Homo sapiens: one gene and its partners. The protein of the gene in region 1 interacts with the protein of each later gene in a pairwise test. Each region holds a gene or a part of one and is shown on either strand. Other genes may lie near its edges.

Evidence for each region. Proteins that work in one complex are often made in the same cells at the same time.
Region 2: the proteins of SEC23A (region 1) and CLEC17A interact in binary tests that used the Homo sapiens proteins (3 or more experiments, as listed by UniProt).
Region 3: the proteins of SEC23A (region 1) and SLC7A1 interact in binary tests that used the Homo sapiens proteins (3 or more experiments, as listed by UniProt).

What each region holds. Positions count from the first base shown.
Region 1 is NC_000014.9:39,031,395-39,037,242, reverse strand, and holds the end of SEC23A (protein transport protein Sec23A), read left to right. Parts: intron 1-3,914; coding exon 3,915-4,004; 3' UTR 4,005-5,324; downstream 5,325-5,848.
Region 2 is NC_000019.10:14,586,057-14,593,087, forward strand, and holds part of CLEC17A (C-type lectin domain family 17, member A), read left to right. Parts: intron 1-1,557; coding exon 1,558-1,635; intron 1,636-3,682; exon of another isoform or gene 3,683-4,037; intron 4,038-6,224; coding exon 6,225-6,302; intron 6,303-7,031. UniProt on the Homo sapiens protein: Cell surface receptor which may be involved in carbohydrate-mediated communication between cells in the germinal center. Binds glycans with terminal alpha-linked mannose or fucose residues.
Region 3 is NC_000013.11:29,529,685-29,536,715, forward strand, and holds part of SLC7A1 (high affinity cationic amino acid transporter 1), read right to left. Parts: intron 6,519-7,031; 5' UTR 6,505-6,518; coding exon 6,135-6,504; intron 3,299-6,134; coding exon 3,140-3,298; intron 1,029-3,139; coding exon 854-1,028; intron 1-853. UniProt on the Homo sapiens protein: High-affinity, low capacity permease involved in the transport of the cationic amino acids (arginine, lysine and ornithine) in non-hepatic tissues.

The DNA of each region.
Region 1 (5,848 bases):
TTGATTATGGCCATGTTGAGTGGGCTGTTGGCAATTTGGGTTTGATGGTCAGGGCAAGAATGAGAAAGGTGATAAAGTCATCACAGTAAATGCTTGTCTGAAGAGAGAGTAAAGAGGTAAAGGAGAGATGAGACAAAAACTTCAGGGGAGTACAAGTGGTAGGAGTGTTTAGTGAATTATCAGAGAGGCAGAATGAAAAGAATAGTATGTCATAAAAGGTGACTTTATAGAAGGAAGAAGAAGGAGGTAACAAACTGACATGCCGCAGACAGTTGAAGAGGGATACAGAGTGAGAAAAGGTGCTTGGATTTGATGGCTAGGAGGTTATTCGTGGCATTGTGTAAGCGGCTTTAGTATGGTGGTTGAGTAAGAAGATAAATTTATAAGGAATTAGTGGGTGAGAAAGAAGCGGAGGTCGAAAGTATAAATGATTCTTTTGCAAATTTAACCTGAGGATAAGCAGTAGGATAGGCAGATGATTGTTATTACGGTAAGGGCACAGAACTTATTTGGAGACCAAGCATAGGAAAGACACAAAAGAACAGATATTTAAGATCCTCAGGAGACAATATGATCATAAGCAGTATATGGACGTTAAGCATTGGTAAGGAGGCAGGGCACTTATTTCTGCAAAAGCAAAAGGTAAGAAGGGTGAAGACAGAAAGGTTTTTAGGTGGAGTGAAAACTCACATTGGATAATTGCCTGTTTCTTTTCAATAATATGAGATTATTTAGGAGTGAAAAAGGCTGGAGTTAGGGGCCAAAAAAACTAGAAAAGATTAAAAACAGTTCTAAAGAATACAAAAATCAACTGAAGATTAATAAAACGCTTTTGCAGCAGTGGTGAGGGCCTATTTTATTTACTAAAAATATCTAGAGCATGCTTCCATAATGTTCTTTTTTTTTTTTTTTTTTTTTTTTTGAGACGGAGTCTTGCTCTGTTGCCAGGCTGGAGTGTAGTGACGCGATCTCGACTCGCTGCAACCTCTGCCTCCTGGGTTCAAGCGATTCTCCTGCCTCAGCCTCCTGAGTAGCTGGGACTACAGGCACACACCACCATACTCAGCTAATTTTTTTGGTATTTTTAGTAGAGATGGAGTTTCACCATGTTGGCCAGGATGGTCTCGATCTTCTGATCTCGTGATCTGCCCACCTCTGCCTCCCAAAGTGCTGGGATTACAGGTGTGAGCCACTGTGCCTGGGAGTATCCATGAATAGATTTTAATTGTTTCATGAGGGCGGAACCCTTATGACCCAGTCACCTCTTAAAGGCCCCACCTTTATACTGCCACATTGGGGATTTTCAAAATGAGTTTTGGAAGGGACAGATATTCAAACCATAGCACCGTCCTACAATTGCATGATTGAATTTGTGTAATATCCCTGTCCTGTCATCCCTTTTCCCGCCTCCATTTTTTATGGCATTGCTCCTGTTAGATTATTAATTACTTGAGGCAATAACTGTCATTTTCATTTTTGATTTTCCATAGGACCTTAAACATAGCATATATTGAATACAATAGATCTGGACAGGAGAGAGCAGAGATTAGAATATTGGAAATCTGTGGAGGTGGCTAGGAGTTAAGAGTTTTTGTAATATAGGTAAATAAATTGAATCCCAGGTCCAAAAGTTCTAAAAGTTGGGGAGGTTATAAAAAGTAATCTTGGAAGGGTGGAAGGCTGGTAATGGAAAATGCAGACTCTGCAAGTTACTTGACTTCTCTTTGTTTTCACTTCCTTGTCTATAGAGTTTAATAAAACATGCTTGAAATGGACAGTAATACTCAGTAAATGTTAGCTATTAGTTTTCACTATTATCAATGGAAAAAAAAGTCACTTCTTATATTTAACATGGGAAAGGAAACCTATTTTAAACTCTGAAGTGTAATTGTTACTGCCTGGAAGTAGGGGCATTACAGGCATAAATAAGAGTGCTCAGGTCTTTCTTAAGATTTTTATGAGTAATGATGTCAATATTTTAATAATCATAATATCTAATACACTGAATCTACTGTTTTAGTCACTATGCTTTTAGTGTACTCTCATTTAATTAACTTTTATAAGGTGGATACTAGTAATCCTATATTTCATGAGAGGAAATTGAGGCTCATATAGATTAAGTATTTTATGCAAGATCATGTAGCTAAACTGTGGCAGGGTCTAGATTTTAACCAAGGTCTAACTCCAGACTCTGAATTTTTAATCAAGTTAATTTGATGATTGCATTTAAAGGAAATAACAGTAACCAAGAATTTTACTAAAAATTAATGGACTCTAATAGCTTACAGGATTTTTTGGGGGTCAGAAATCAAGGACCCTATGATAAGTATTATCCATGAACGGCCGTAAGAGGGCACCACTGCAACACTTCTGTGACAGTGCTGGAGGCCTCTGTTGCTGTAGTGCCTCATATACTAAATAATGTAAAGCTTGTACCTTTCTGCCTAATCCTGGATATATTTTAAATAGAAAAAGGGTCCATTTGAAAAGTTGAGATCAGCTAACTGCTAATTTTTTATAAAATCGAATGAGCATTGGTATTTATCATTTCAAGCAGGAGCTCTGTGGTATATAAATTAGGAAATCCTTATATTTTGTCTTGACTAGGAGAAATGGCTCTGAGATTGGGTGACTTGAGATGGAAAACATTGTAAAATGAAAATAAAATCAGGCATAGTTACAGGAAGAAAAAAGTAAGAGCCATGAGGTTGTTACTGGTTTAGGTTACAGTTTTGAGACTTGTGCTTTTCTGTGTTAGCTATGCATATAGAATAAAGAAAAGTATTTCATTGTTATAGATTTTTGAACAGGAGGAACAATAGAAATAGCTAAAACATGTATGTCTACTGTGTGTACTAGGTACTGTTCTGTTTGCTTTATAGAATTTAACTCATTTAATCATTACAACAACTTGTGTAAGATAGGTCCTGTTATTATCCTTGTTTTACACATGGGGAAACTAAGACATAGTTTAAATAACTTATTCAGTCATATGGGTAGGAAGTGGCAGAGCCAGAATTTGAGCCTAGGCATTCTGGATCCAGACTCTATGCCCTTAATCCCAGTAAGGGATTGCCTCCCTTCATTATCAAATCTTTCAAGTTCTTTTGAATAAACATATGATAAAATTGATTTCCCTTTATTCAGGAGAGGTTATGGCATGTTTGTGGCTATGCCAGACTAGAATCACAGGAGCTATAAGTTCTCATCTCACATTTGCCAATAATTTGCTGAAATTACTTAATTTCCCTGTTTTAGACTTTGAATATTTATAATTAATAAGAACTTGAGTATAAGAAGAAAAATGTAAAATTCAGATTAAAAATCTTCTAGAAATACCTTCTCTTGCTGAAGTAAAATTTCATTGTTAATGGATTGGGTTACCAAGATCATTCTGTCAATACAGTTTTTATTAAAATGGATAATAGGAATTTTCCCTAACTCTTGTTAATTACTTGGAACCTACAGAAATCAATTAAAACGACCTGAAAACTTGAGAAGCATAGTTTATTTAAAAAATGATATTATGAGTTTGCTTCCTTCCAGCTGGGATTTCTCTTAAAATGCCAGGGAGAAAGGGTCTGGAGGTCAGGCTTTCTTTTAAAAGCACCAAGCCTCTAATTCCATTGTTAGTCTTCGTGGTGACTAGCCGCCATCCTGATTCATCTCATCTCATAGCATAAACTCCTATGTGATCCCATCAGCCTATGAATAAAGACACTCCTATTATCAGGGAATTCTAAGGATGTAGAGTCTCCCTCCCAGCAACCAGGGACGGAGGCCAGTTAGATTCTTTTTATTTAATAGGACCATAGGCATTTCAAATGATTTCCTTGTCTATTTTAAACATTTGTGTATAAATTCCATGATATCACCCTATGCTTTAATCATAACAAATATCTTTTTTCCTCTAGGAGTCTGGAGCACCTATTCTTACAGATGATGTTAGTTTACAAGTGTTTATGGATCACTTGAAGAAACTTGCTGTGTCCAGTGCTGCTTGAAGTGCTAATAATGTTAAAGACACTTAAGAAGATGAAATAATATTCAAATTTCATTTTTTCCTTTTTCCATTTATCTGTGGAAACCAACAGATATTGCTCTATATTTTTTGTATTAGTATGGTTTGAGACAACATATGGAAAATGTTCACATTTGTAGATTAAGCTGGAATTATAATGAGAGCAATAAGAACAAATTTATTTTGCTTACCACAGTGTTATAGCTGGTTCTAGAAATTTGAAGTCTTTATAACTTAATTATGTTTAATAAAAAATAGAGTCTGCCTCGTACTACAGATGTAACTCATTTGTATATTGCAGACAGACCCAAAGTGGCACTGAATTTTCTTGCTCACCTTTTAAAAACTTGTTCCTTAATTTTAGCCAGAAAGCAAAAAAACAATAGTAATGATAAATGTGAACATTTTTGCTTATTCATTGAATATTTTTCTGTAATTTTCAGCACTTATGTATACACTTTTTCTGTACTTACTAGGTTAAGGCAGATTTATTTTTATGATTTGTTTAGGAATTATTTGATTTTATAATGGTAATTTTCATGATGATAATGTTTTTGGTTATTTGGAAAGATAGTTTAGAGATGAAAGGTTTTTTTGGGTAACAATCCCGCAGCTGACAAAAAATGTGAAATTTCCACAAAATATCCAACTTATGTGACTAAACGCAGTAGTTTTTTTAAAAGGGGAGATAGAAAATAAATGGTTTTGTTGGAGTGCATTTTAGTAAGCCTTTGCAGTAAAATGACGGTTGTAACTACTAAACCAAATTTAGTTTTCACAGCATGGTTTTGTTGTTTTCCCCTTGTTTTTCAGAGGTAAATTTTGCATTATATCCTTCAGTATTTTAACACTATTTTGGCAGTTTACACATTACTTTTTGTTTTTCCTTCCTTTTTGTGAAATGTATTAAGTTGTGGTTCTTATTGAAACAGTATTATATAATGTTTGCTTAATTATATCATGTGATGCTCAGTTCTATTTTGATTTATTCATTAGTATTCACTTTTACCTTTAAAGTTTACTTGTAGCAAATATGTTTACATTGATAAAGCCAGATATGTTTTGACAATGAAATTTACATATCAAGTACTGCAAATAAAAGGTGGTGCTATGATATATGCTTAGGAGGACAGTTTTAATGATTGTACTTGCATGAACACAATCATATGATGGTAAAGCAGAAACTTAAGAAAAAATTGTTTATGTGTTATATTCAATTAGCTTAAATAAGTTGCTTTGTTATATTTTATTTGAATTGAACTACGCTAGGCCTAAATGCCAATAAAATATACTTTTCACTGTTTTTCTGGCTATTTTGAAATCTAGTAAAACCTGAGAAGCCTAATGTAAAATTAGAGTATTTAAAATCATTAGATTTAAAAGCTACTCATTTAAAAAATAACAACTTTAAGATATAATTCACACATCATACACTTCACCCACTTAAAGTGCACAATTTAATAGTTTTGAGTATTTTCGTGAAGTTATGTATGTAACCACATCACCACAATCAATTTTAGAGTATTTTTTATCACTCCCAATAGTTACTCATTTTTGTTGTAAGGCTAGTGTGTTTTTAAAAAGGGAGATAGAAGTTCATGTAGTTTTTTGTTGTTGTTGTTGTTTGAGACAGAGTCTTGTTCTGTTGCCCAGGCTGGAGTGCAGTGGCACAGTCTCAGCTCACTGCAACCTCCACCTTCTGGGTTCAAGCGATTCTCCTACCTCAGCCTCCCAAGTAGCTGGGATTATAGGCGCCTGCCACCACACCTGGCTAAGTTTTGTATTTTTAGTAGAGATAGGGTTTCACCGTATTGGCCAGGCTGGTCT
Region 2 (7,031 bases), on another chromosome or scaffold:
TTAGGTTTAGAGCAGTAATACTTAGTCTATATAAAAACATATTTTAATGTTTCTTAATTTCTTTACTTTTTTTTTTTTTTTTTCTTGAGACGGAGTTTCACTCTTGCTGCCCAGGCCGGAGTGCAATGGTGCAATCTTGGCTGACAGCAACCTCTGCCTCCCGGGTTCAAGTGATTCTCCTGACTCAGCCTCCCTGGCAGCGGGATTACAGGCATGTGCCACTGTGCCCGGCTAATTTTGTATTTTTAGAAAAGATGGGGTTTCTCCATGTTGGTCAGGCTGGTCTCGAACTCCCGACCTCAGGTGATCTGCCTGCCTTGGCCTCCCAAAGTGCTGAGATTACAGGCACGAGCCACCACGCCCAGCCTCTTTTCTACTTTTTTAAGAGTGGGGTCTCCCTCTGTTGCCCAGGCTGGAGTGTAGTAGTGCAATCATGGCTCACTGCTGTGTCAACCTCCTGAGCTCAAGCAATCCTCCCACCTCAGCCTCCTGATAGCTGGGACTACTGGTGTGCACCACCATGCCTGGATGGTTTTTTCTAAATTTTTTTTACAGAGATAGGGTCTTGCTATGTTGCCCAGGCTGGTCTTGAACTCCTGGCCTCAAGCGATCCTCCTGCCTTGGCCTCCCAAAGTGCTGGGATTATAGGCATGAGCCATTGCGCCCAGCCTATTTCTATGTCTCTTTACTGGTTTATTGTGTCTCTGGTCTAGATTGAAGGAAGAAGTTTATCCATCTCTTCCACCCAGAACTTGGTGCTCTGTAGGGGAGCTCAACTGGGAGCGGGGAGGTGGGTGGCTGTTGTCATTGTTTCTTCTTTTTCTTTCTTTCTTTCTTTTTTTTTTTTTTTGAGACAGAATCTCACTCTGTCACTCAGGCTGGAGTGCAGTGGCATGATCTCAGCTCACTGCAACCTCCACCTCCTGAGTTCAAGTGATTCACCTGCCTCAGCCTCACAAGTAGCTGGGATTACAGGCAGGCACCACCACGCCCGGCTAGTTTTTGTATTTTTGGTAGAGACGGGGTTTCACCACGTTGGTTGCCCAGGCTGATCTCGAACTCCCAAACTCAGGCGACCTGCCAGCCTCAGCCTCCCAAAGTGCTGGGATTACAGACGTGAGCCACCACCCCCGGCCCATTGTTTCTTCTATGTGTGAGTCCAAACTCCAGAGAAAGATGTGTGTGTGTGTGTGTGTGTGTGTGTGTTTGTGTTTGTGTGAGGTCTGGGGGCTTCCCCCCAAGATGGATTTGCCTGTACTTGACTTTGAAAGGAAAGGGAAACAGACAGATGCCTTAGACATCTGAGTAGGAGAGACAAGACCTGGCTACCCCTTGTCATGTTCCTGGTGTTAGCGGTAGCCATGCACAACCTGTATTCTATCTCTGGGTGTCCAGACCCACCAGGTAAGGCCCTGGCCAGGCTGGGGCTGGGGCCCAGGTGTGGTCAAGATCCAGGGTACAGAATCCCCATCATGGGGCAGCTGAGGCAGAGACCAGGGCTTGAGGGATGGAGGGAGGAGGGAATGGCTGGGCTCTGACTTGCCTTTCCCCTGGAAGGGACCATGGAGGAGGAGGAGGAGGATGATGACTATGAGAACTCAACACCTCCCTACAAGGACCTTCCTCCCAAGCCAGGTAAGAGGACTTTTTGGAGTGTGACCTGGGGGAATACAGGGAACGGGGTCTCCAGTGGGCATTGGTTGGGCATTGTAGACACACAGTCAGTCTCCTCTCTACACAGCCCATGCCGGGCACTGTGGAACCCACACCCTGCCCAGGAGGACCTGTCAGTCTGATGGCAGAGGCAGGATTGGGCACAGTCTTGGTGAGCAGGGTGAGAGAGGAGGGGTCAGGAGATTGGCAAAATCCTTGGGGGACTGAGGGCTCAAATAGAGGAAGGGACTTTGGGGTGAGACTTGAGGGATGAGTAGACATTTCTTAAGAAGAGAAGTCCAGGAGAGAACTGTTAGGTGCAAAGTCCCTGAGTTACAAAAGCTGGTGCTTGAGAAACTGGGAGTGGACTGTGGGCTCCCAATCTCCTCACCTTTCTACCCAAAGCCCAGGTTTTATTTAGACTTGGATCACAAACCCAAGGCATGGTACAGGGTCCAACAGGAGACTGATAAGTGGTTGTTAAAGTGGAGGTTTGGGCCAGCTGCAGTGGTGTGCATCTGTAGTCTTGATACTTTGGGAGGCCGAGGTGGGAGGATCGCTTGAGGACAGGAGTTTGAGACCAGCCGGGGCAACATAGCAAGACCCCATCTCTGCCAAAAAAAAAAAAAAAACAAGTAGAGGTTTGGACCGTTTGTGGTGGCACATGTCTGTAGTCCCAGCTACTTGGGAGGCTGAGTCAGGAGGATCGCTTGAGCCCAGGAGTTCTGGGCTATTGTGAAGTATGTGATTGGGCATCTGCACTAAGTTTGGCATCAATATGGTGATGTTTTGGGAGCAGGGACCACCAGGTTGCCTAAGGTGTCTGAGGAGGGGTTTCCAGGTTGGAAACAGAGCCACTCGACACCCCCGAGCTGATCAGTAGTGCGACTGCTCCTGTGAGTAGCCGCTGCACTCCAGCTTGGGCAGCATAGCGCGACCCCACTTCTAAAAAAATAGAGAAAATGAAACCGGAGGTTTTTGAGGTATTCCTGAGTTTACTGCCACCAGGGACCCTGAGGCCATGAGAGATCCTGGGGGCCCAAAACAGAAAATCCCTGAGATATGCTGATGGCCTGGTCCTGGTGACCTTAGACAGGGGCCATTCTATGAGGGCTGAGGCTGTATATCCCCCATCTCTGAGTCCAGAGTGGGGCCACCTGGGAGGTCCAGAAATATGGTGGGACTTGCCTGAGGTAGGAGGTGACCTGTGCTGTGTTGTTTCACTGCCCCATTTCCAATTTATGGTCCTAATGTGACCCTCAAGCCCTGGGTCTACATATATGACCAACCAATCCCATTCCCTTCTTCAGGGCCACGTCTGCTCCAAAAGCACAGTCCTGTCCCCACATCCACATGCAGCCCAGCATCCACTCTCCAATCCAACTTCATCACCCTCTCTACTATAGCCCAGCCTCGACTCCTTCCCCCTTCCCAAACCTGGCAAGGACTCTGTTCTTCATCCTAACCACATCATGACCTTACCCACATCCATCCCTGTCCCCAACCCATTTTCCATCCCATCCCACCCCATCCCAACACCAATTCTAATCCAAACCTCACCTCATCTTCATCCCCATCCTGAAACGCAACTGTTTTTGTTTTTTAAAATCCCCTCCATCCCCTTCCATCCCTTCCCCTTTCAATCAAACCCTCAAAGAGACACACAGAGAAGAGAACTGTGAATTGTCTGCTCATTAGTTTTTATGAGAGGAAACCAGAGAATTTAAAAAAAATATTTTTGAGACAGGGTCTTGCTTGTCACCCAGGCTGCCCTGAAGTGGTGCAATCATAGCTCACTGCAGCCTTGAGCTCTTGGGTCCAAGCAATCCTCCTACTACACCCTCCCGAGTAGCTGGGGTTACAGGCATGAGTCACTGTCTGTAAAGCCTCACATGTGAAGCTCAGGGTCTACATATATGACTCATATGACTCTCAGGGCCTGTAAGTTCTGCAGAGATGACTGTGGTAGTCAGCCTTCAAGATGGGTTCCCTGTGACCTTTACGTTCTCATATTCGTGCCCTTGTGTAGTCTCTTCCCACAACGACTCAGAGCTGGTCCATGTGATAAATAGAATACTGTATAGTGGAGACCATCCTTTGTGACTTGTGAGGCTAGATCATAGGAGCATGGTGGCTTCTATCTTTGCCTCTGCCATGTTGTGAAGATGCCCAGTCATCCCTTTGGAGAGGCTCACATGGCAAGGAACTGAGGCCTCCCACCAACAGCCATGTGAGTGCATCATCTTGGAAGCAGATCCTCTAGCCCCAGTCAAGCCTGCAGATGACTTGCAGTCCCAGGCAACATCTTGACTACAATCACGCAAGAGATCTCAAGCTAGAACTACCCAGCTAAGCTGCTCTCAGATTCCTGAACCACAGAAACTGTGAGATAATAAATGCTTATGGTTGTTTTAAGTCACTGCGTTTTGGGGTAATTGGTTGTGCAGCCATAGATAACTGACCCAGTGCCCTGGTACTTCACCATGGAATGTGGGGGAATACTTAACACCTATCCCCTTAACATCTTGTTACAAATGTTACCACTTCCAGGAGGCACTTCCTGATGACCTCGCTACATTAGCTTTTATCCTATCCCTATTGCTCTGTTTTATTAGGTTTAGAGCAGTAATACTTAGTCTATATAAAAACATATTTTAATGTTTCTTAATTTCTTTACTTTTTTTTTTTTTTTTCTTGAGACGGAGTTTCACTCTTGCTGCCCAGGCCGGAGTGCAATGGTGCAATCTTGGCTGACAGCAACCTCTGCCTCCCGGGTTCAAGTGATTCTCCTGACTCAGTCTCCCTGGCAGCGGGATTACAGGCATGTGCCACCGTGCCCGGCTAATTTTGTATTTTTAGAAAAGATGGGGTTCCTCCATGTTGCTCAGGCTGGTCTCGAACTCCCGACCTCAGGTGATCTGCCTGCCTCAGCCTCCCAAAGTGCTGAGATTACAGGCGTGAGCCACCATGCCCAGCCTCTTTTCTTTTTTCTTTAAGAGTGGGGTCTCCTTCTGTTGCCCAGGCTGGAGTGTGGTAGTGCAATCATGGCTCACTGCTGTGTCAACCTCCTGAGCTCAAGCAATCCTCCCACCTCAGTCTCCCGATAGCTGGGACTACAGGTGTGCACCACCATGCCTGGATGGTTTTTTCTAATTTTTTTTTTTTTTTTACAGAGATAGGGTCTTGCTATGTTGCCCAGGCTGGTCTTGAACTCCTGGCCTCAAGCGATCCTCCTGCCTTGGCCTCCCAAAGTGCTGGGATTATAGGCATGAGCCACTGCGCCCAGCCTATTTCTGCGTCTCTTTACTGGTTTATTGTCTCTCTGGTCTAGATTGCAGGAAGAAGTTTATCCATCTCTTCCACCCAGGACTTGGTGCTCTGTAGGGGAGCTCAACTGGGAGAGGGGAGGGGTGTGGCTGTTGTCATAGTTTCTTCTTTTTCCTTTTCTTCTTTTTTTTTTTTTGAGACAGAGTTTTGCTCTGTCGCCCAGGCTGGAGTGCAGTGGCGCGATCTCGGCTCACTGCAAGCTCCGCCTCCCAGGTTCACGCCATTCTCCTGCCTCAGCCTCCTGAGTAGCTGGGACCACAGGCGCCCGCCACCACGCCTGGCTAATTTTTTGTATTTTTAGTAGAGACAGGGTTTCACCATGTTAGCCAGGATAGTCTCGATCTCCTGACCTTGTGATCTGACTGCCTCAGTCTCCCAAAGTGCTGGGATTACAGGCGTGAGCCACCGCGCCTGGCCCTTTTTTTTGAGACAGAATCTCACTGTGTTGCCCAGGCTGGAGTGCAGTGGCGCTATCTCGGCTCACTGCAATGGGGGCTATTGTCATTGTTTCTCCTTCCTCTTTTTTTTTTTTTTTGAGACAGAATCTCACTCTGTCACTCAGGTTGGAGTGCAGTGGTGCGATCTCAGCTCACTGCAACCTCCACCTCCTGAGTTCAAGTGATTCACCTGCCTCAGCCTCACAAGTAGCTGGGATTACAGGCTTGCACCATCATGCCTGGCTAGTTTTTGTATTTTTGTTAGAGACGGGGTTTCGCCATGTTGGTTGCCCAGGCTGATCTCGAACTCCCAAACTCAGGCAACCTGCCAGCCTCAGCCTCCCAAAGTGCTGGGATTACAGATGTGAGCCACCACTCCCGGCCCATTGTTTCTTCCGTGTGTGAATCCAAACTCCGGAGAAAAATGTGTGTGTGTGTGTGTGTGTGTGTGTGTGTGTGTGTTTGTGTGAGGTCCAGGGGCTTCCCCCCAAGATGGATTTGCCTGTACTTGACTTTGAAAGGAAAGGGAAACAGACAGATGCCTTAGACATCTGAGTAGGAGGGACAAGACCTGGCTACCACTTGTCATGTTCCTGGTGTTAGCTGTAGCCATGCACAACATGTATACTATCGCTGGGTGTCCAGACCCACCAGGTAAGGCCCTGGCCAGGCTGGGGCTGGGGCCCAGGTGTGGTCAAGATCCAGGGTACAGAATCCCCATCATGGGGCAGCTGAGGCAGAGACCAGGGCTTGAGGGATGGAGGGAGGAGGGAATGGCTGGGCTCTGACTTGCCTTTCCCCTGGAAGGGACCATGGAGGAGGAGGAGGAGGATGATGACTATGAGAACTCAACACCTCCCTACAAGGACCTTCCTCCCAAGCCAGGTAAGAGGACTTTTTGGAGTGTGACCTGGGGGAATACAGGGAACAGGGTTTCCAGGAGGCATTGGCTGGGCATTGTAGACACACAGTCAGTCTCCTCTGTATCCAGCCCATGCCAGGCACTGTGCAACACACACCCTGCCCAGGAGGACCTGTCAGTCTGATGGCAGAGGCGGGTTTGGACACAGCCTTGGTGAGCAGGGTTGAGAGAGGAAGGGTCAGGAGATTGGCAAAATCCTTGGGGGACTGAGAGCTCAATTAGAGGAAGGGACTTTGGAGTGGGACTTGAGGGATGAGTAGACATTTCTTTCTTTTTTTCTTTTTTTTTGAGATGGAATTTCACTCTGTCACCCAGGCTGGAGTTCAGTGGCACAATCTCCGCTCACTGCAACCTCGCCTCCTGGGTTCAAGCAATTCTTTTGCCTCAGCCTCCCGATTAGCTGGGATTGCAGGCGCCTGCTACCATGCCTGGTTAACTTTTGTATTTTTAGTAGAGACCAGGGTTTCACCATATTGGCCAGGATGGTCTCAAACTCCTGGCCTCAAGTGATCCGCCTGCCTTGGCATCCCAAAGTGCTGGGATTACAGGTGTGAGCCACCACGCCTGGCCGAGCAGACATTTCTTAAGTAGAGAAGCACAGGAGAGAATTGTTGGCTGCAAAGTCCCCGAGTCATAAAAGCTGGTGCTTGAGAAACTGGGAGTGGCCTGTGGGCTCCTCAATCTCCTCTCAT
Region 3 (7,031 bases), on another chromosome or scaffold:
TTCTTTAAAGCCACACTCCATTGTGGCAGTTGGAGGGGGTCTCTTTATCATAGCAGTTTCAACCTTCAGTCTTAATGAAGAATCACACACAAAATCCAAGTCCCCATTGTCCATCCTGAGACCTAAAGAATTACATGGAGATCTGACAACAAAGATAAAAAAGATATGACTGTTTGGCTTTTTTTTCCTAGGTTATCTGAGCTTTCAATGAGGGCTGGGCGAGAGACCTGAGATGGCACAGGGTGGAGCTGTCACCTCCAGTTCCGGATGTCTGTGTCAGAGACATGAGGGTGATGGGGCCACTGTCGCCAGGGCTTGAGCAGCACAAGTCAAATGTCGGCGAAAGACTATTGTGCTCACATTCTGACACTTCAGTCATTCTGAAAACCTTCAAAAATAGTTTCACCTATTTCTCTTCCCTCTACATTATTAATCTAATAGGAAGGTATTTAAAGGTGAAGTGAGGTCACCACGGCACTGCAGAGAAAAATCTTTTCTGAACACAAAATTCCAAAGTTGGCCATCAAACAGAATCTGGGGAAAGAGGGATCATTTAATGAGTCTGACAAGAATCCTGAATGATACACAATTTGGAATTAGGGTGATGATTTTCTTTTCCTCAGTCTTTCTTGTCATACAATAGTCTTTCCATTTCAGGGGAATAAACCTTCACACAAACTTGATACATACAAAATACCCTCAGCTACTTCACTGCAAAAACACAAAACAATTAACAAAATATCCTCAAATAATGTTTTCTTAAAAGCACATGCCATCCTAGCCAGTTATATCCCCCATACAATCTATGTCATTAAATGTCAACTAAGAAAAATGGTCAGAAGCAGCAACTCACTTGTTCAAACAGAGACGGCCTGATGTGTTCCCAAAATCCTCCTCCGTGAGCTGCCAGTTTTTAACCGATCCTTTCACAAATCCTGACACCATTATGAAGCCCAGGACCAGGACGTTAATACAAGTGAATATTTTGTTGACCATGGCCGACTCTTTCACACCAAGAGTTAAAAGTCCTGAAAAAGTGCATAGACACAAAACTTTGTCTGAGTGTTAACCACAAACTGGGAAGGTCCTTCCTGGATGGGGATAAGAAGGCGACTGAAAAAGAATCCAAGTGCATCGAGCCTCTGCAGACCTCTGTGAGCCTCTGGGAATGGGGTGGATTAATTATCTTTCTGGGGGCGGGGATCAGGGGTTTAAATCACCAAGGTTGTGGGTGCTTCCCAGGCCCTCCTAGGTGACCTCCAGATACCCTTGGGAACTGAGAAGCCCACCCAAGGGGCACCCGAGAACTGCAGAGATCTGGAGCATGAGCCCCTCTCATAGGGAGGGGAAAGCCTGGACCCGCACACCAAGCCGCTCCCTCTCACTAAAAGGATGCGTTGCTGGGAAACAACCTCTAGGAACAATTCCAGGAAGAAAGACTTTGCATAGTTTCCTGGGAGAATGGACATTTTTCAGAAGAGGAAATTATTCTGGTTGACTTTGGGATGTTAGTGATATTAACAATAACAACTAGCTATGGTTCTGGAACCACTAACACACATGGTTCTTCGTTGGACTCAGTGCATATAAAATAACATCTGAGCTAGGCTAGCTCTAGCTTGCAAACTCACGTTTTTTTTTTAAAGAAAACTATAAGTAATAAAGATGCCCAGGAACCTCTGACAGCACTGCCTTTGAGGCACATGCCCCAGCACCACCTTAGGGTGAAGAGGTCATTCGGGTACTTCCATAGCTGAACTCTCTGCTGGGCAAGAAAAGTGGCACAGAAGGGGTTGGTACCACTCGAACACAGCCAGGATTTGAGACCACTGCTCTGCCATGGACGCCTCTCATCGTTTTAAAATAAAAATTGGCTAGGTGCGGTCGCTCACGCCTGTAATCCCAATACTTTGGGAAGCAGGCAGATCTTTTGAGGTCAGGAGTTCCAGACCAGCCTGGCCAATATGGCAAAACCTTACCTCTACTAAAAATATAAAAGATTAACTGGGTGTGGTGGTGCGTGTCTGTAATCGCAGCTACTGGGGAGGCTGAGGTGTGAGAATCGCTTGAACCCAGGAGGCAGAGGTTGCAGTGAGCCAAGATCGCGCAACTGCACTCCAGCCTGGGTGACAGAACAAGACTCTGTCTCAAATATAAAATAAAATAAAATAAAATAAAAACTGCTGTACTTTTGAGATTGAATTATAAAGTACAGATGTTAGAAGAGAATTGTGTAATTAATCACAGGGAGAACACCTCAACAAACAACAATATATTGTTTCTTTAGTGTCCCTCCCTCTCAGGTTTATTAAAATGAAATCTCACTAGTGCAGACTTACTTTCTGATGCATGTTTCTGCCAGCTGGACCAGAAATACTGCTGAGACCAGCCTGAGTGAAGTTATTTCAATTATGTGGTGTGTAAAATAAGGCATGTCATTTTTAAAACTCATCCAAGATTTTCTAACCCCAAATGAGAATTTATCTGCATTTCAGCTTCATGTTTATGGAGCCCCACAGAGCAAAACTCGCGCTGCACTGGCCAAGACACGCACAAATGTCACTAGCAAGAAGTTGCCATCAGCTGTGTTCAGGCAGTCTCTGGGATTTTTCAAATTCTGTAACCACAACTCTGTCATGAAACTTATTTACTGAAAGGGTGTTTTGATGGTTGTTAGGTGTAAAAACCATCCAAGTCATCTTCAGACGCCCCAGGCACACATTAGTGTTCCAGACGGAGCTCATTCCTCCACATTTTCCTGGCTGATGAATGACAGTTTTGCTTTCCAAATGGTCATCCACTGAGTCAAAAGAACTTTTATTCCCAGGACACTCACACAAAAAGCCTGCAGTGCAGACAAAATCTTATTCCACAAACAGCTAGGCTAAACACCTAAGATTCTCTTTTAATGAAATGGCACACAATTCAACAGCTATGAAGCAGGCCGGCCCTATCTGAATCTATAAGAAGCAATGAAGACAGGAACAAATAAAGATGCCTGCATGCAGTACAAAAACAAAACAAAAAGAAATGGGGGTTATGGTTAAAGAGATAAGTAAAGAAAGGAACTTAACAGGAGCCTCTCACCAAACCTTTGCCCATCACTCTGACCCGATCTCTTTTTAAGTGTGGGCTTTACCTGTCAAGATGAGAATTATGATCACTGCGAATATGTCGGGGTTTTCAGCCAGCACGCCGGGGGCGTTCAGAGTCATGTGTGTCCGTGAGAACTCCCCGATGGGTCTGCCTATCAGCTCGTCGAAGGTGGCGCTCCAGGCCCTCGCTACGCTTGAAGTACCTGCCACAAAGCACACACAACAGAGGAGATGTGAGGACAACTGTTAGCCAGGTATTTGTAGTGGAGCTCCATGTTGATAACATCATTGCAGGAGTCACCGACGGTGCACTGGAATCTGGCAGCAGCAGCCAGACCACAGTGTATGCTGAGCCAGAAGTGACGGTCGACTAGTGCTAAGTGCGAGAAGGCTTCTAGGGCCTACAGAGGAATGCACTTCACATCCTACCCAATATACACAGGTGTATTCTATCAAATATATATATCCGAATAAAAAGTTCGCAAAACGAGTGTTACCCTTACCACCTGAGAGGCACTCTGATAATATTTAATGCTACCTACTTTGTTTCATTAAAAAAAGTAAACATTGATGACAACTCATGAAAAATTGATTTCATAATGCACTCCTGGGGTGCAGCTGGCAGTCTGGAGGAATGCTGCTTAGGAAGCCTCTTTTCTAGGAACCCCTTGGCTGCAGAGATGATGGTGCCTGCACCATAATTCTTCTCTCAGCAAGAAGAGGGGCCCTAGGAAGTCCTTGAAGGGGCTGAACTCCATCTCAGGGACAAAGCCACTTGCTCATCTCAGTGTTGGCATCAGCCACCTCTGCCACTTTTTGCCTGAACCTGATTCGGAGGCCACAGCATCCCCAGAGTGCAGGACAGCAGACAGACCCCAGCCCTCCTCGTTCTCCCCTCAGCCTGCACCCTCCGGTGCCGAAGAACACCAACAGGGCAGCACTCAAAATGCCAACAATAGTTGGCTGCTGTCTTTCACTCTCATTCTCTCCTCTCACATAATTCTAAAGGGTGTCAGAATGTGTTTCCATTGGTGTTTCTCAGGAAATGTCACTAAAATTCCAGCATTTTCATAGAGCGTTTTCCTTTATTTTCAAAGCGGGCCTTGTCGGTGACCATGGTCCTAATTATCCACAGCATATTGCCACAGTGATCTGCAGAGATTCAATTTCACTATTTGGTCTTATGATAAGTAAGTATCTTTCCAACAACTCAGAAGTTTAACCACATTTCTTCCTCCTAAGCAGCCAATCTATTATGAATTCTGTAAAAATGGTCTCACCATCTCCCTGTCACCCCCAAAGCAGCTGGCTTATGGCAAACGTGGCTCCCAAACCCTGTCCTGCTCAGTGACAGGGGCTACCCCAGCCTTTCTTCCCAGCCTATCCACTCCCAATTTCTGAATTATGCCTTTTAAAAAAATGTTTGCTGGAAAAACTGCCCTTCCCAGCAGCTAAGGCTGAGAACACATTTTTATAATGCATGCAAATGGTTTCACACAAGCAAACGGCACTCTCGCAGAGCCTTACATTTGTTGGTCTAGAAGCTGCAAGCATTTCATGCTCAATGTATATTTTATGCTCAGGTAAATCCTCTGGAAACATAACGGTCCATTTACAATAGCTACATTCCCAGTGAGAGACTTCAGCTTGTGAGAACCATGTGTGGTTGTTAAGTTTTGATGTGGCATTGAAAGAAAACATTGTGAATTTTATTTTAGAACCCAGAAGACTAAGCTATGTTGGCTCTCAGCAGATACTGCAGCTGCTGGAAAGAAAGAGAAGGTGCTGCTCGGAGAATGTGAGTGTGTGCCCTCCCCCAGCTGTCCTGGTGAAGGGGGAGTGATGCCCCCCATGCAGAGATAGGGCTGTGGGGAGCCCAGGGCTGCGAGGATCCCAGCAGGCAGCATGTGTGGCCAGGGAGGGTGTGGTGGGGTCCAGTGGGAGCTGACACAGAAGCAAGGCGGAACCCACATGGCTCAACTTAACAGGTCTTACTGTTTTTTCGCTATTACCAAAAAGTTTGAGAAAAAAAAAAATAAATGGCATGTTGAGTGGCCGTTTGTACCCTTTGCTTCTGAGACTTAGGTTTTTGTTTCTTTTAAGTTGATGTGTTCAACTTCAGTTGTAATCAAAATACAAAAAAGCATAAAGAGAAGCAAAGCGTGTTTACCTGGCAAACCGGAAAGATTTTCTACATTTGCTTCCTTATTTGCTGGGTGGATGTGTTACAGGCCGATGCCCAGTGCCCACACTGCAGGGAAAGGGGCCCCTGGCTACGTGGAGGATCACAGTCAACAAAGGCCTTAAAAACACGCAGACCCACTGACAGCCATTCTGCTCCTTAGACAGTTTTAAGGAAAAGAATCATGGCTAAGCCCAAAGACATAAAGTAATTAACTGTTAATAACAACAGCAACAACATAATGGAAACAATCTGAACATCCCATAAAGACACCAATACATTACGCTGTGTATATAAATCTATACAATGGTAGGCAAGCATTAGAAATGTTACTGTGGAAAAATAGCTAATGATATGAGAAATGTTTACTATATATTGTTTTATAAAGAGATACACTGTAGAAAAATACACATTTAAATTCACAAAAATGTTAACCATAGTTGTATCTGTAGACAGTAAACTTCTGAACACAGAGTGTCTTATGCCTTCATGGGATCCCTAGTATCTAGCACAATGCCCAGCCCAGAGCAGGTACTCAATGAACATTTATTAAAAGAATGAATGAATGAATGAGAGAATTAGTTTCTCCATGTTGTCAGGCAGGGTATTTCTACTTTCTTCTTCATGCTTTTCTTTATTTTCCCAATTTTTCTCTATCAGTGATGCATTTACTCTAGTAATTTAAAAACCTACTAAAAGAAACTAAATACCTCTAAATGAATCAGAAACATCCTATTAATTCTGTGCCTCTCGTGTTAACAAGAATGACCTCCCTGTGGGGCATCCACCCACACTTTGGAGGTGGGAACAAACAGAAAAGTGGTAGAGGGCACGAGCTCCGGACCCCTGGGACCTACCGATGATGTAGGAGAGGATTAAGTTCCAGCCGGTGATGAAGGCCCAGAGCTCTCCAACGGTGACATAGCTGTAGAGGTAAGCTGAGCCCGTCTTGGGGACCCGAGCACCAAACTCGCCATAGCACAGGCCAGCCAGCACTGAGGCCAGCGCAGCGATCAGGAAGGAGATGACAATGGCAGGGCCTGCATTCTCACGGGCCACAGCTCCAGCCAGGACGTAGACACCAGCACCCAGTGTGCTGCCCACCCCGAGGGCCACCAGATCAAAAGTGTTCAGGCAGCGAGACAGCCGCGTCTCCTCCCGGCTACAGTCCACCACCTTCCGCCGCAGCATCTGCTGCCCAATGTTGAGCAGGACTTTGCACCCCATGTTGCTGTTCAGAGCTGTTGAAAAAGAACAAAGATGTTTCCTGATTGCTCCTCATTTCACCCATTACTCTAATCTTATCACATTATGGAAACACAGACAGTGATCAGGTCCTTCATAATCATTTCCTGCTAAAACGCTTTAATTCGTAGAATTCCACCATCAATTGTCAGAAGCACGCAGACTTCTCCAGTTTCACCAGCACATACAGAATTAACCCAGCAGGCCAACAGATACAGATGACTTCATTTCGAGGTCTCTGAGCTTCCACATTTGTAGCAGGTCCTCTTAATGGAGACTCTTCCATGGGTGGAAATTATGCAGTAGAGGAAACACACATTAATGACATTGTTCCTACACTCAGTCATCAGATAATACACCAGGAAAAACAAGGTGTTAGTTCAAGTATGCTGTAATAGAAAGCAAACCAAACCATATCTTAATTTCATTACTAAATTAAATTATTAAATTATTAAAACTCAGAGGCCCTGAATGGCAATAACAATGTTTTTCTAGATCTTTCTAGGATC